2 linked regions of the Homo sapiens genome follow. The protein of the gene in region 2 purifies or fractionates together with the protein of the main gene of each other region. This does not show direct contact. Each region holds a gene or a part of one and is shown on either strand. Other genes may lie near its edges.

Region 1 (7,759 bases), on a different chromosome or scaffold from region 2:
CTCGAACACCACGCCAGCCACGATCTCCTGACAGCAGGCCCTCAACCGAGTCCTTGTTCCAGGCCTGGGCTCCTGCTGCTCTCTCCCCGGGGCACCCTCCTGCTGCTTCCCTGCCCCCCCGTACCCCCTGACTGGAGTTCCCCGGCCCGGGCACCTTTCTTGGGAAGTCTACATGCTTCTGATTCTGGCTCTGACTCCCTTGGGCCACCCTGGGGTGGAGTGGCAGTGCTGTGACTGGACACTGCTGGACTCTTGTGCCGCCCTCCCTGGTGCAGGATGAAGCTCTGCCCACGGTCCTGGTCGGCGTGTTCATCGAACAGCCCACGCCGTTTGTGTCCCTGTTCTTCCAGCGGCTCCTGCGGCTCCACTACCCCCAGAAACACATGCGACTTTTCATCCACAACCACGTGAGTAACAGGCGCTCTGTGGGGTCGTCATGTGGCTTAGATCCAGGGCCCAGCTTCACAAGGTAGCCCGAGACCTCTGAGGGTCTCACCGAATCTAGCTTATCTGGGCCAAATGACAATCACCAGTGGACTGTGTCCCCAAATCACTGAGTTAACTTTGGAGTCAGACTGGGTGAGTTTGAATCCCAGCGCCGCTATTTTATTGGCTGTGTGACCTTGGGCACATTACTCAACCTCTCTGTGCTTTAGTTTCTCATCTATAAAATAGGCATAAAAGTCGGGCGCGGTGGCTCATGCCTGTAATCCCAGCACTTTGGGAGGCCCAGGTGGGCAGATTATCTGAGGTCGGGAGTTCGAGACTAGCCTGACCAACATGGTGAAACCCTGCCTCTACTAAAAATACAAAATTAAGCTGGGTGTGGTGGCAGATGCCTGTAATCCCAGCTACTCAGGAGGCTGAGGCAGGAGAATCGCTTGAACCTGGGAGGCAGAGGTTGCAGTGAGCCGAGATTGCGCCATTGCACTCCAGCCTGGACAACAAGAGCAAAACTCCGTCTCAAAAAAAATAAAAATAAATAAATAAATAAATAAAATAAAATAGGGATAATAATTGTGCAATCACACAGAATTGCTGCAAGGGCTAAGCAAGCTGACATGCGAAGTTCGTAAAAGGTGCCTGGTGCACAGGACGCATCTAGTTGCTTCTAACTGTTGTCATCTTCACTTCCATCCCTGTCACTGTTAATCCTTCCTACCTTCCTAATTGTACCTGGTGGCAGTCAAATTGGTTTTCTTTTCTTTTTTTTTTTTTTTGAGACAGAGTCTCGCTGTGTCACCCAGGCTGGAGTGCAGTGGCACGATCTCGGCTCACTGCAACCTCTGCCTCTTGGGTTCAAGCGATTCTCCTGCCTCAGCCTCCCAAGTAACTGAGACTACAGGCATGCGCCATCACAACTGGCTAATTTTTTGTATTTTTTTTTTTTTTTTTGAGACGGAGTCTTGCTCTGTTGCCCAGGCTGGAGTGCAATGGCGTGATCTCAGCTCAGTGCAACCTCTGCCTCCCAGGTTCAAGCCATTCTCCTGCCTCAGCCTCCCGAGTAGCTGGGATTACAGGCGCCTGCCACCGTGCCTGGCTAATTTTTTGTATTTTAGTAGAGATAGGGTTTCACTATGTTGGCCAGGATGGTCTCGATCTCCTGACCTCGTGATCTGCCTGCCTCCGCCTGCCAAAGTGCTGCGATTACAGCCATGAGCCACCGCACCCAGCTGGATGGTTGTTTTTCCTTTTTTTTTTTTTTTTGAGATGGAGTCTTGCTGTGTCTCCCAGGCTAGAGTGCAATGGTGCGATCTTGGCTCACTGCAACCTCCGCCTCCCAAGTTCAAGCAGTTCTCTGCCTCTGCAACCTCCGCCTCCCGGGTTCAAGCAGTTCTCTGCCTCAGCCTCCTCCCGAGTACCTGGAATTACAAGTGCCTGCCACCATGCCCGGCTAATTTTTGTATTTTTAGTAGAGACGTGGTTTCACCATCTTGGCCAGGCTAGTCTTGAACTCCTGACCTGGTGATCTACCCGCCTCGGCCTCCCAAAGTGCTGCGAATACAGGCGTGAGCCACTGTGCCTGGCCTGGACTGTTGTTTTTCAAAGCGAAGTTGAGGATCACCTGGCACATTTTGTAACAAAGTGGATCTCTGGGCCACACCCAGGAATCAACAATGTCTCTGGATGTGGGATCCTGAGCGTGGTGGCGGAGCTCTATCCTGATGACAGAGGCTCTTAGGAGGCCTGACCTGGTCAGAGGAGAATGGGCAAAGGATGGCCAGGGAAGGGTGTTCCTGGCACAGGGCTGGCATGGGCAAAGGTCTGGAGACAGGAAAGCAGATGGCCGGGGTGCCAGAGATGAAGGGGCACAGCCTGGCAGTGACAGGAGGTGCTACAGTCCCTGGGTGGAAGCTGTGTCCTCCTCCTCACCCCCGCATCCCCTTCCCCATCCCCAACCCCAGGAGCAGCACCACAAGGCTCAGGTGGAAGAGTTCCTGGCACAGCATGGCAGCGAGTACCAGTCTGTGAAGCTGGTGGGCCCTGAGGTGCGGATGGCGAATGCAGATGCCAGGAACATGGGCGCGTGAGTTGTGGGCCACAGTACTCTCCACTGACAGTGGGGGCAGGGGAGCTGTGGCTGTGGTAAGGAGCAGCAGGCTGAGTGACAGGAGTTCAGAAGGCTGTGTGTGCTCTAGCAAGTTCCTGCCCCTTTCTGGGCCTTGGAGTTTCCATCTGTCAAAAGGGGAAATAGCCTCTGTCCTGCCAACCCCCGGGGCTCCTGGGCAGGGCTGAGCCATGTTATTTGGGTTCAGGAAGCAAATCAGAGAAAGAGGAAGGACTGGGGGCAAAAGTAGACAAAGGCTGACTATTAGGGAGCCAACCTTGAATGTTTTACTTTATTATATATAAAAAAAAAAGGCCGAGAGCAGTGGCTCATGCCTGTAATCCCTGCACTTTGAGAGGCCAAAGTTGAAGGATTGCTTGAGGCCAGGAGTTCAAGAGCAGCCTGGGCAACATAGCGAGACCCTATCTCTTCAAAAATTAAAAAAAAATAGCCAAGTGTGGTGGCTTGAACCTGGGGTCCCAGCTACTGAAGAAGCTGAGGCAGGAGGACCTCTTGAGCCCGGGAAGTCGAGGTTGCATGAGCTATGATTGCACCACTGTGTTCCAGCCTGGGAAACAGAGCGAGACCTTGTCTCATAAAGCAAAACAAAAACAAAGAAAGAAGTAATTTGTGTTGCTTGTAGAAGAGTCAGACAGTCCAGATCAAAGGTTGGCAAACTTCCTGCTAAGGATTAGATCATAAATCTTTGCAAATTGGCTCTGCCGGCTCTGTGACAACCCTCAGCTCTGCCCTAGTAGCACAGAGGCTGCATTCCAGCAAAATTTCATTTATGGACACTGAAATTTGACTTTCATGTCATTTATTTTTTTTTCTTTTTGAGACTTGGTGTCACTCTTGTCATCCAGGCTGGAGTGCAGTGGCAGGATCATAGCTTACTGTAGCCTCAAACCCCTGGGTTCAAGTGATCCTCCTGCCTCAGCCCCCCAAGAAGCTGGGACTACAGGCATGTGCCATCACATCCAGTTAATTTTTAAATATTTATTTATTTATTTATTTAGAGACTGAGTCTCACTCCGTCACTCAGGCTGGAGCGCAGTGGCGCGATCTCGGCTCACTGCAACCTCCCCGTCCCAGGTTCAAGCCATTCTCTTGCCTCAGCCTCTCAAGTAGATGGGATTACAGGTGCTTGCCACCACACCTGGCTAATTTTTGTATTTTTAGTAGAGACGAGGTTTCACCATGTTTTCCAGGCCTGTCTCAAGCTCCCGAACTCAAGTGATCCGCCCGCCTTGGCCTCCCTAAGTGCTGGGATTACAGGTGTGAGCCACTGCGCCTGGTTAATTTATTTATTTTTATTTTTTGTAGAGACAGGATCTTGCTATGTTGCCCAGGCTGGTCTCAAACTCCTGGCTTGAAGTTATCCTCCCGTCTCAGCCTCCCAGAGTGCTGGGATTACAGGCATGAGCCACTGCACCTGGTGATGACCTTCACATAATTTTTACATCTTCTTTTGATTTTTGTTTTCTTTTTTTTTTTTTTTTTTTTGAGATGGAGTCTCGCTCTGTCACCCAGGCTGGAGTGCAATGGTGCAATATTGGCTCACTGCAAGCTCTGCCTCCCACGTTCACGCCATTCTCCTGTCTTAGCCTCCCGAGTAGCTGTGACTACAGGTGCCCACCACCATGCCCGGCTAATTTTTTGTATTTTTAGTAGAGACGGGGTTTCACCGTGTTAGCCAGGATGGTCTCGATCTCCTGACCTCGTGATCCATCCACCTCAGCCTCCCAAAGTGCTGGGATTACAGGCGTGAGCCACCACGCCCTGCCGATTTGTTTTTTTCTTGAAACAACTTAAAAACATAAAATCAGCCAAGTGCAGTGGCTGTAATCCCAGCACTTTGGGAGGCCAAGGATTGCTTGAGCTGGGGAAGTTGAGGCTGCAGTGAGCTATGATTGTGCATTCCAGCTTGGCTGACACAGTGAGACCCCCATCTCTAAAAAAGGAAAAAAGGCCGGGTGCAGTGGCTCGCATCTGTAATCCCAGCACTTTGGGAGGCCGAGGCGGGCAGATCACCTGAAGTCAGGAGTTCGAGACCAGCCTGGCCAACATGGTAAAACCCTGTCTCTACTAAAAATACAAAAATTAGCCTGGCATGGTGGTGCACGCCTCTAATCCCAGCTACTTGGGAGGCAGAGGCAGGAGAATCGCTTGAACCCGGGAGGTGGAGGTTGCAGTGAGCTGAGATTGTGCCATTGCATTCCAGCCTGGGCAACAGAGTGAGACTCGTTCTCAAAAAAATAAAATAAAATAAAAATAAAAAAAAGAAAAACATAAAGCTGTTCTTAGCCCATGAGCTGTACAAAACCAGGCAGGGCCAGAGTTTGACTCACAGACCCTCGTTTGCTGAGTCCTGTACCAGATAAACAAAAGTAACACAGATTTTTAAGGCTTTTGGTACAAGTTACCAAATTGCATTTCAGAAAGGCAGCCCCAGCTTACTCCCCACCCTGGGCCATGTAGGCACCTGTGGGCTGTGTTCTTCCCAGTACCAGGATTTTCAGGGCACTTGATACCAGTTGCCAACCTCTGGGCCTTGGGTGAGAGAGCCCAGCAGTCCAGGGGTTTGGGACTCAGAGTCGGGAGGAACCTTTGAGGCTGCTGGTGTGACCTCTCTAAAGCCCCTTGGCTGATATGTGGTGAAGCCAGACTGTGGTCACAGATGTGAGCAGCCACCAGTAGCTCCAGGATCAGGTGCACTGACCCTGTGTCCTCCTCCTTGCAGAGACCTGTGCCGGCAGGACCGCAGCTGCACCTACTACTTCAGCGTGGATGCTGACGTGGCCCTGACCGAGCCCAACAGCCTGCGGCTGCTGATCCAACAGAACAAGTGAGGCTGCTCCGTCTGCACCCAGCACTGCTCAGGACTGGCCTGGTCCTGGGGTGGCAGCCCTCCTTGCCTTCCTCCTCCTCCTCCTCATCCACCTCCTCTTCCTCCTCTTTTTCCTTCTCCTGCTCCTCTTTCTCCTCCTCGTCTTCCTCCTTGTCTTCCTCCTCCTCTTCCTCTTCCTCCTCTTCCTCCTTTTTCCTCCTCCTCCTCGTCTTCCTCATCCTCTTTCTCCTCCTCCTCTTCCTCCTCCTCCTTGGCCTCACCTATTACCCAGAGCTGTGGATCCCCAGCCTGATACCCCAGGTTCTGATAGAGAAGGTGTCCTGCCCTGTCTGCTCCTGGCTGCCCCATGGGAGGGAGCAGGTACCAGAAGAGCCAAACCCCCGACACCCCGGCCAAGGCACTGCCTGTCTCAGTGAGGTGCTTGGGGATCCCTGCGTGCAGGTTGAGGGGCACCTACCTCCCCCCATCCCTGGTTAGTGCTGTCTCCTACTCCCAGTGGGCAGCGACCTCCTACTGAGGTGCTCCCTTCCCTCAGGAACGTCATTGCCCCGCTGATGACCCGGCATGGGAGGCTGTGGTCGAACTTCTGGGGGGCTCTCAGTGCAGATGGCTACTATGCCCGTTCCGAGGACTACGTGGACATTGTGCAGGGGCGGCGTGTGTGAGTACCTGCAGGGTGGGGGTGGGTGGGGGACACCTTCATCTGGCTTCTGCCTGGGCTTGTGGGGCTCCCTCCCTATTATTCCTGTTCTTGTTACCCTCAAATTCCTGTTGAACCTGAAGCAAGGAAGACTTCAGTTAGACACACAGAAGGACTTCCTGACAAATAGGCCCATGTGTCCAGGGCGGGGGAATCAAATCAGCACAATTGTGCCCCCCTAGCCTGTGACTTCCCTTCTCACACCCAGACTCCAGGCTATGACTCCCCACCACCACCCTGTGACCCCCTCCATCTTCCCCACCACCAGCCTCTGACCCCCACCCGCTTTCTGTCTCTCCCACAGTGGTGTCTGGAATGTGCCCTATATTTCAAACATCTACTTGATCAAGGGCAGTGCCCTGCGGGGTGAGCTGCAGTCCTCAGATCTCTTCCACCACAGCAAGCTGGACCCCGACATGGCCTTCTGTGCCAACATCCGGCAGCAGGTCAGCCAGGAGCGGGCAGCACAGGACGCCCTCTGGATGGGGCAGGCGGGAAGGTGGGCCTCCAGCTCTGACCCTCATGGTGGGCCGCCTTGTCACCGTAGGCCTGGGAGCTCCAGAGATTCTAGCAGGGCATCTCGGAAGCCACCAGGGCCTGCTGGAGGAATGGGGGCCGTCGGGCACGAGGGCTGGTCCTCAGGGGTCTGCAGGGACCATTTTAGCTGACCTGGTTTTTATACCATCTATTTTATTTACATTTTTGGAATAGCCCAAAGAAAACGGAACTTTCCACCTAAAGGTACTCCAAGTGATGTGCCCGAGAGACACCTCACCCTGTCTCTGCGCCCCACCCCATATATTTTTGTGACTTTTTTTTTTTTTTTAAACATGCAGCAAGATGAAGTTTTCCCCTGTGACCAACATTTCAGGACCAGAACACGCTCCTTTTCTTTTACGCATTTTTTCTTTCATTCTGTGTTCAGTCCTCTGGGAAGACTTCCCTGATCACATTCTTAGTGTCAGGCCTGGGCTGGGCCCTGGGGACATAGCGGTGACTGCACTTGGTCTCTGATATTGGGAACTTCAGTTCGGCGGGTGGAGGAGGCTGCACTGTTGCCCGTCTGGGAGCGTGCAGGGGAGGGGTGAGGGCAGGGGAGGGGTGGGGGAGCGCCTCTTCCACCGGGCCTGTCCTCCCCAGGATGTGTTCATGTTCCTGACCAACCGGCACACCCTTGGCCATCTGCTCTCCCTAGACAGCTACCGCACCACCCACCTGCACAACGACCTCTGGGAGGTGTTCAGCAACCCCGAGGTGAGGCCAGGGTGGGCACATAGGGGCTGGGAGCAAAGGGGCCCAGTGATCCTGCAGTCGGAGGGACTTCCCTCTCAGAGTCTTACAACAGCCAGGACCCCTGTAGGCCACCTGCCACCCTCCCTTCACCCCAGGAGGCTATAGGGCAGGATTTGGGTAGGGAGAGAAGGGTGTCCAGAGAGGCAACACCATCTATTGGAGGAGGGACCAGGACTCAAGAGGCCTGGGTTTGTGGCCTAGATCTGCCATCATCTGGGACTTAGTTGAGCCTTCCAGCTTTGGGGACCTTAGTTATCTTAGCTCCAAAATGGGTATACTGTCCCAGCCTGTCTTACCCATGAGGGTGTTGTGATGATCAGAAGGGGAGACAGTTGTAACTGTTTCTAGACGTTGGGAGCTCACAGCT
Region 2 (7,759 bases):
TAACTTTTCTTCTTTGAGATGGGGTCACCCAGGCTGGAATACAGTGGGGCAGTCAGCTCACTGCAGCCTCGACTGCCTGATATCAAGGCAGCCTCCCAAATAGCTGGGACTACAGATGTGTATCACCAAGCCCAACTAATTTTTCTATTTTTTGTTGACAGGCTCTCACTATGTTGCCCAGGCTCGTCTCAAATTCCTGGACTTGGGATCCATCTGCCTCAGCCTCCCAAAGTGCTGGGATTACAGGCGTGAGCCACTGTGCCTGGCCCTGGTAACTTTTAATGTTCCTTTGAAGGTGTTTTCCTAGTATGAGGATGGGCAGCTTACTGAGTCTGTTGTGTGTCATGCTTACACACCAAAACGGTTTTCACAAAAGCTGAAACCACTTTACCAAAAATTGAGTTTACCCTGAAGACACAAAAAATGAATTGTATACACAAGGAGTCACAACTGACTTGATATGAATACTTATGGCTATTTCGCAGGGGAATTTTTAAAACTAAGGTTTAAAACGTGTAGGACATGGTACCAAGGTAGTTTTCAGTTGAAGAATTTTTCCAATGTGCCTACTAGAGAGGGACAAAGTTGTGAAATATGTAATGTAGACTTGCAGGGAAACAAATGGTGTCATCAGGTTTTACTGTCAACTACAAACCTTACCCAGCCAGAAACCTTCGTATTTTAGATGGTAGGAAAGACATTCCTCATTTAGGCAAGTAGGGTTCTCATTCAACCTGCAAATCAAAAAGATTACTCTTACCTTGCTTTACAAAAAATTACTCTTTAATTAGTGAAAAAATTCAAATTCAAGCCTTACCTAATGCTTATTGCCCTTCCTTGCAGGTCTAAATGCTAGACCTAGTGACTGTGGCAACTATCTCTCATTGATGTTCCAAAAGGCGAAGAGCTCCTTCCTGCTAGACTTTCTTCGATATTTCAGTTGTAATAAGCAGATTTAACTAGCTTTTGGAAAGTTGCTCACTATCATCATAGTATCTTATGCCTTCACTTCTCTGTAGTTGAAGCTCTTGCTGCTGCCTTGTCATTCTTTATTTATGCTGACTTGTCCAAACACAAAAGGCTGCTGAAGTCCTGTCTTAGTGAGTTTCTGTGATCCACACTGTGCTTAAAAAGCACATCTTAGGTCCTTTAAAGGTGGTTAAATCGCTCTCCTCATGGCTTACTTTTCCACACTGTTCACAAGAGCTAAGCTAATACAACTTATAAACAGGTCACATACACAGATTTCACCTGCTTATAGGTTGTAAACATCAACTTACTGTAAATGTTTTCACTATAATACTAGTTCCAGAACATAGAAAGTTGGTTAACAGTACAATTAACCTCATGCCATTAAAGGATACTGTCAAGGTTGTGTCAAACAATTTCACAAACATAAAACAGGAAATGTTAATCTCCCCCATTCCTTTAAACTTTATTTATATGAATAAAAGAACTTGAGACAATTTAGCTCAATTTTAATGTTTCCCAAGCATTATTTTGACCAGGTACCCAGGTTTAAGTTATGAACATTGACAGTGTCCATTATATAACCACACTTGAAGTTATTTAGGACTTAACCATTTTCTAATATTAGCCTATTTTCTACACTGCTTTTCACATATATGCCCATTAACAAATGGAATGTCTGTTACATTTATTGGTTTGTGAATGTTTCTGGAAAACTGCAGTATGTGTGAAGACCAATTTCCATGCTGGCATTGCATGCATCCAAATATTAATGCACAGAGGCACAGAATTAGAGCAACAAGAGAGCATATTCAAACACTAGCACACCCCATTCCCCTTTTTATTGCTTGTTTGCTTAGTACTTCTTAAAACAAAAGACTTGAATTCAACGTTCAACTACCAAAGAGAGTAACAGCAGGGCACATACTCAGGGCTCGAATGAAACTGTAAGCACTAGCTGGAGCAAAACAGTAGACATTGGTTTATATTAATATATGTATATATGACCTTATTAACTAAAACTCTTCTCAACCAGGGCCTTCCAAACAAATTGGTAACAACATGATTTATGTTGAAATATACACAAGAAATAACAGTGTGTTCTTTGGGAATTTAAGAACTCAGACTATCCAAATTTGAATTCAGGTCTGTAGGAAGTGAGAAGCCTGTACTAAGCAACTGTGCTACATTTCTGCTGCAGTTAGGTTATTTTGGACAATTATACCTGAACTATCCTTGGTTTCATCCAGCAAAATGTATAGAATACAAACAGGAAAGCATGCCAGCCAGTTAGGGGTTTAATAACACATGATTTTTATTCTCTTGCTCTGAAAACTTGTATCAAAAAAAAGAATTTAAAGTAACTCAAGATTTATGGGCCTCTTGTGCTTTAAATAAGAAAAAAAAGGTACCCACTAATTTGCTCAGATATAGCAGGCTTAATGGTTCTATATTTTCAAAAGTTTTTAAGAATGGTTTCTAACGTAGGAGAGGGAAAACATCCACCATCCCTTTTCAGAATTTAAATGGAGGGCAGTAAACATTCTTTACACCCAAAACCTATGGCAGCAGTTCAAATTTGACCAAGGTAAATGTAGAATAGAGATGTTCTAAACACAGCTAGGACTCAGCAAGTCTAACACACTAAAATCATATGATTACATTTTAAAAGAAAATGCACAAAAACCAAATAGAAATTTTGAGATTTTTTTTCATTTGAAGGTAATCTTAATGCTATTAAATTCACAAATGCTAATTTAAATACCCAATCCTATTTATCTAAAACACACATTGCAAACACACAAATTATCTATTCTCTCCACATGTCAGCGCCCATTCATATCATGGTTTGGAAATGGGGAGAATAGATTCCCCTTAAACTGCAAGTCAGCAGGTGTTTCTTTACAGTTAACTTTAGCAAAATTCATACAAAATAGTAATTAACAATGATCTTCTTTACTTGTTAACTCACAAGGAAACACCTTCGAAACTGCATTTTGTTAAAGTTTCTGTACTAAAATGTAGAAAAACTGAACTACACAAATATTGAAAAGTTAAAAATTCCTTAATTTTTTATTCCTGGTACCACTACCACAATTTACAGGGCAATATACCTGATGTAATGAAAAGAAAAAGAAAAAGACAAAGCTACAACAGATAAAAGACCTCAGGAATGTACATCTAATTGACACTACATTGCATTAATCAATAGCTGCACTTTTTGCAAACTGTGGCTATGACAGTCCTGAACAAGAAGGGTTTCCTGTTTAAGCTGCAGTAACTTTTCTGACTATGGATCATCGTTCCTTCTGTGGCAGATTTTTACAGTTCCTCTAATGCATTTGGGACGACTGTCTCAAAGTAACCTGCAGCTTTCCTGACAACTCCTCGCTCTCTCTCCTGCTAAGAACTGTAGCCTGTTGAATAATACAGGATAAAAAAATTATTACACTCAGTGAACAGTTCCACATATTCTTTTATCATCATAATAAAAATTTAAAGATACCTACCCTTTTCTGCTGTTTTTAGAACCTTCTGCTACCATATCCACCACTTCCACCACCAGATCCATAACCACCTGAAAATATACATAGTATTTTAAAAGAAGTATGCACATTTTTTAAATTAAAAAGGCTCTAAAGAATTGATTTAAGAAAGTACTTACCACCATAGGGACTGCCCGAGCTTCTTCCACCAAAACTGCCCCCTTTCATGGGTCCATAATTTGATTGCTGTTGTCCACTATAATTTCCAAAATCATTATAGTTCCCACCACCACCATAGTTACCTGAAATCAGAAAGGTTTTATGTGTGGTTTACCTACACAATCATCATTTTCCCCTTTTAACGTATGTAACTATTATCTTTTGAGAATTATGGTAGCATGCTTATACACATCACTGTGGTAGCACCACTTGGGGTAACTGATGTCAGGATATTAAAAGACCATCAACATTTTGTTTATATTAAATGCTGTCCTCTAGGCGCATGTTCTCTCTACCATTAACACCATTAAAATTGCCAGTGTTCCATTCACTATGATTCTGAAGCAGTATAACATTTAAAACAATGAGAAGGCATTCTAACTTGTTAAAACTTCCACTCATCTGTCATTGACATGTTAATTAGGTCCAATAAAACAGTGCATTCCTAAGAAAGCTTTTAACAGTATTGTGGCTTAATGACCTACATACACTAGCTTGCTTAAACGCTTCAACTACCTGTGACATATTATATTAAGACCCAAAGTACTTTGTTAACCTGGGCCCTAGATGGCAACCTGCTCACTTCAACACGTCTGGAGTATTCAAACAATTTATTCCCGGTTGTCCAGTTTAAAAGTACCAAGGAGTTAAGTAAAATTTTGGCAATAAATAAACTCCCAATCTTTTACACGTAAAACATGTACTGAATACTGGTAAATGTCCATTTTTTACTACTCAACTAAAAATTCAGTACATTTGGCTGAGTGCAGTGGCTCATGCCTGTAATCCCAGTACTTTGGGAGGCAGAAGCGGGCAGATCACAAGGTCAGGAGATCGAGACCATCCTGGCTAACATGGTGAAACCCCATCTCTACTAAAAATGCAAAAAAATTAACCGGGCGTGCTGGCATACGCCTGTAGTCCCAGCTACTAGGGAGGCTGAGGCAGGAGAATCGCATGAACCCGGGAGGCGGAGATTGCAATGAGCTGAGATCACGCCACTGCACTCCAGCCTGGGCAACAGAGCAAGACTCCATCTCAAAAAAAAAAAAAAAAAAAAAAAAAAAGAAAAAAGAGAGCTGAGTACATTTGTACATTTTACTAAATAACCAGCAAAGTCAAGAAAATTTGGTTTGAACTACCAACCATTTTAGTATTTTTCTTATAGAACATAAAATTTGATCAAACGCTTTTAACACTTTCCAAATATGTGTCATGGGAACTGTTAGCAACACTGAATATTTAACATTTAAATAAAACAAGTGAATGCTTACCACCGCCAAAATTTCCTCCTTCATTGTAACCATCATATCCTCCACCTCCACCATATCCACCACCTTGGTTTCCATATCCTGGTCCACCACCACCATAGCCCCCTCTACTACTATAACCAGGACCACCGCCATAGTTGCCACCTAAAAAAACAACAAATAACAAGACCACACAAAAACTTAAGTGTATAGTCACGTTATTCAATTCTGGTGTGTGTGTAAGAGACTGGGTCTTGCTCTGTTGCCCGGGCTCAAGTACAGTGGTGCAACCACAGCAATGCAGCCTTGAACTCCTGGGCTCAAGCCATTCTCCCACCTCAGTCTCCTGAGTAGCTAGACTATGGGCATGTGCCACCATGTTCCCCTATTTTATTTTTCTAGATATACGGTCTCCTTATGTTGCTCAGACTAGTCTCAAAATCCTCACCTCAAGCAACCCCTCTGCCTCAGCCTCCTGAATAGCTAGAATTACTCAACTCTGGTTTTATATTACATTTAAGCCACTGGCAAATAAGCCAATGAATTGATTTAGCACTCTGAAGCCTGGTAATACCTAATAATAATAGAGTATCAAGTATCTGCACTAGTAAGAATGAAAAATAAATGTGTAACCCATCTTCTGATAGTAAAAAAGAAAATCAGTTTTCATTTTACAAAATTTCACTAAGAAAAATATAGTCTCAGACTTAATAGAACAATTCTAGCTCAACCCCTACTACTTGCTGAAAAAGAGCAGCTAATGTCTCTCCAGGGGAAAAAGGGTTCCTGTTCTTCCATGTACAGTTTGGAAATACACCTTAACCATTTAGCCACTGAAGTTTTAACTAAAATTAGAAAAGTGTAATAAATAATTTTCAATAAGTAAAGAAAGTTAAAATATCAAACATCAATGAAAATAAGCCACCTACCATCACCTCCAAATCCATTATATCCACCATCACCTCCTCCATAACTACCTCTGCTGCCACCACCTCCACCACCATAGCCTCCTGAGGAAAAACAAGAAATGAATTAAAATAATATATTCAACTTACCAAAATGTCAGGTATCCATGTACTTAGAAGATAAACAGCCTACCTCTTCCACCAAAGTTTCCACCACGGCCAAAATTACCTCCACCACCTCCAAAGTTCCCTCCGCGACCCATAAAATTGCCAGATCCACCTCCACGACCTTTAATACAGGCAAGGGAGATTTTTAAGAACCTTACAAACACCACTCATATCCACTGTATACATGTGTATGGTCCTACTCACCTCTCTGTGATCCAGCAGACTGCATCTCTTGTTTAGAAAGGGCCTTTTTCACTTCACAATTATGCCCATTAATAGTGTGGTATTTCTGAACTAAATTTTTTTTCAATCAAACAAAACAAAAAGTTATTTTATGTTTGGAAAAGCACATATATGAGATACCCTCTGTCATTATGTAACCCATTAAGACATAATCAGGTAGTGACTCTGGTAATGAAGGAGCATTCTGAGATGTTTATGTTTATTTCTTGATCTGGATACTGATTACACAGGCAGACACTATGAAAATTGACTATACACTATAAATGCCATTACACGCAACAGAAAATTACAATTTAGCAAATTTAGTTCAAAACAGAAAAACCAGTTCTACTTTCTCATTCAAGTTACCATAAATTGCTACTTACCAACAATTTTATCAACTGTATCATGATCATCAAAAGTTACAAAAGCAAATCCTCTCTTTTTTCCACTCTGCCTGTCTTCCATAACTTCTATGGTTTCAATCTTGCCATACTTTTCAAAGTAGTCTCTCAAATTATATTCTTCTGTATCTTCTTTAATACCACCAACAAAAATTTTCTTCACTGTTAGATGGGCACCAGGCTTTACAGAATCCTACAAATAAAGTAATATATTAAGTCAAGAAACAAACTTTCACAACAATTTCACATATTACACAATGTATTATTAAAATACCTCTCTAGAAACAGCTCTCTTTGGTTCCACTACACGCCCATCAACCTTGTGTGGTCGAGCACACATTGCTGCATCCACCTCTTCAACACAAGAATAAGTCACAAAACCAAAGCCCCTGGAACGTTTTGTTTGGGGGTCTCTCATTACCTACAAAATAAAAAGTTTTATAACGTTGAAAACACCTCCACCGGTTCTCTACACCCCTTAGAACCCTTCTGTTCTCTTAGTAACTTACCACACAATCTGTGAGTGTGCCCCATTTCTCAAAATGTTCTCGTAAACTATCATCTGTAGTTTCAAAGCTCAGACCACCAATAAACAGTTTTCTCAACTGCTCTGGTTCCTTTGGATCATGGCCCTGAGAGAAAGAACCAATACTCTTAAGTTACCTTACAGTAGATGAATTAAGATGCACGAAGAGCCTTTAATGTACGGTAAGTAATAAAATCAACATCAAATTCCTGTGACAGTTAACACTTTGTCCAGTTAAAACTTTGACCAGACACCGGCGCGATGTCTCATGCCTGTAATCCCAACACTTTGGGAGGCCGAGGCAGATGGATTACCTGAGGTCAGGAGTTCGAGACCAGCCTGGCCAACACGGCGAAACCCCATCTCTACTAAAAACACAAAAATTAGCTGGGCGTGGTGGCGGGCGTCTGTAATCCCAGCTACTCGAGAAAGGAAAATCGCTTAAACCCAGGAGGCGGAGGTTGCGGTGAGCCAAGATCATGTCATTACACTCCAGCCTGGGCCATAGGAGCGAAAACTCCGTCTCAAAAAAACAAAACAACAAAAACTTTGACCAGAAATAAGACTTCAACTGTTAAAGGGGCTAACTTATGTCAAGGAAACCTATAAC

The links. Proteins that work in one complex are often made in the same cells at the same time.
Region 1: the proteins of HNRNPA3 (region 2) and PLOD1 purify together in Homo sapiens (affinity purification with mass spectrometry; 2 studies listed by BioGRID and IntAct, with this or other methods). This does not show direct contact.

What each region holds. Positions count from the first base shown.
Region 1 is NC_000001.11:11,958,241-11,965,999, forward strand, and holds part of PLOD1 (procollagen-lysine,2-oxoglutarate 5-dioxygenase 1 isoform 2 precursor), read left to right. Parts: intron 1-275; coding exon 276-407; intron 408-2,405; coding exon 2,406-2,527; intron 2,528-5,291; coding exon 5,292-5,396; intron 5,397-5,934; coding exon 5,935-6,060; intron 6,061-6,403; coding exon 6,404-6,545; intron 6,546-7,239; coding exon 7,240-7,353; intron 7,354-7,759. UniProt on the Homo sapiens protein: Part of a complex composed of PLOD1, P3H3 and P3H4 that catalyzes hydroxylation of lysine residues in collagen alpha chains and is required for normal assembly and cross-linkling of collagen fibrils.
Region 2 is NC_000002.12:177,215,035-177,222,793, reverse strand, and holds part of HNRNPA3 (heterogeneous nuclear ribonucleoprotein A3), read right to left. Parts: intron 7,256-7,759; coding exon 7,133-7,255; intron 7,045-7,132; coding exon 6,898-7,044; intron 6,817-6,897; coding exon 6,606-6,816; intron 6,292-6,605; coding exon 6,202-6,291; intron 6,119-6,201; coding exon 6,023-6,118; intron 5,935-6,022; coding exon 5,854-5,934; intron 5,090-5,853; coding exon 4,949-5,089; intron 3,758-4,948; coding exon 3,635-3,757; intron 3,548-3,634; coding exon 3,495-3,547; 3' UTR 3,480-3,494; intron 3,387-3,479; 3' UTR 1-3,386. UniProt on the Homo sapiens protein: Plays a role in cytoplasmic trafficking of RNA. Binds to the cis-acting response element, A2RE. May be involved in pre-mRNA splicing.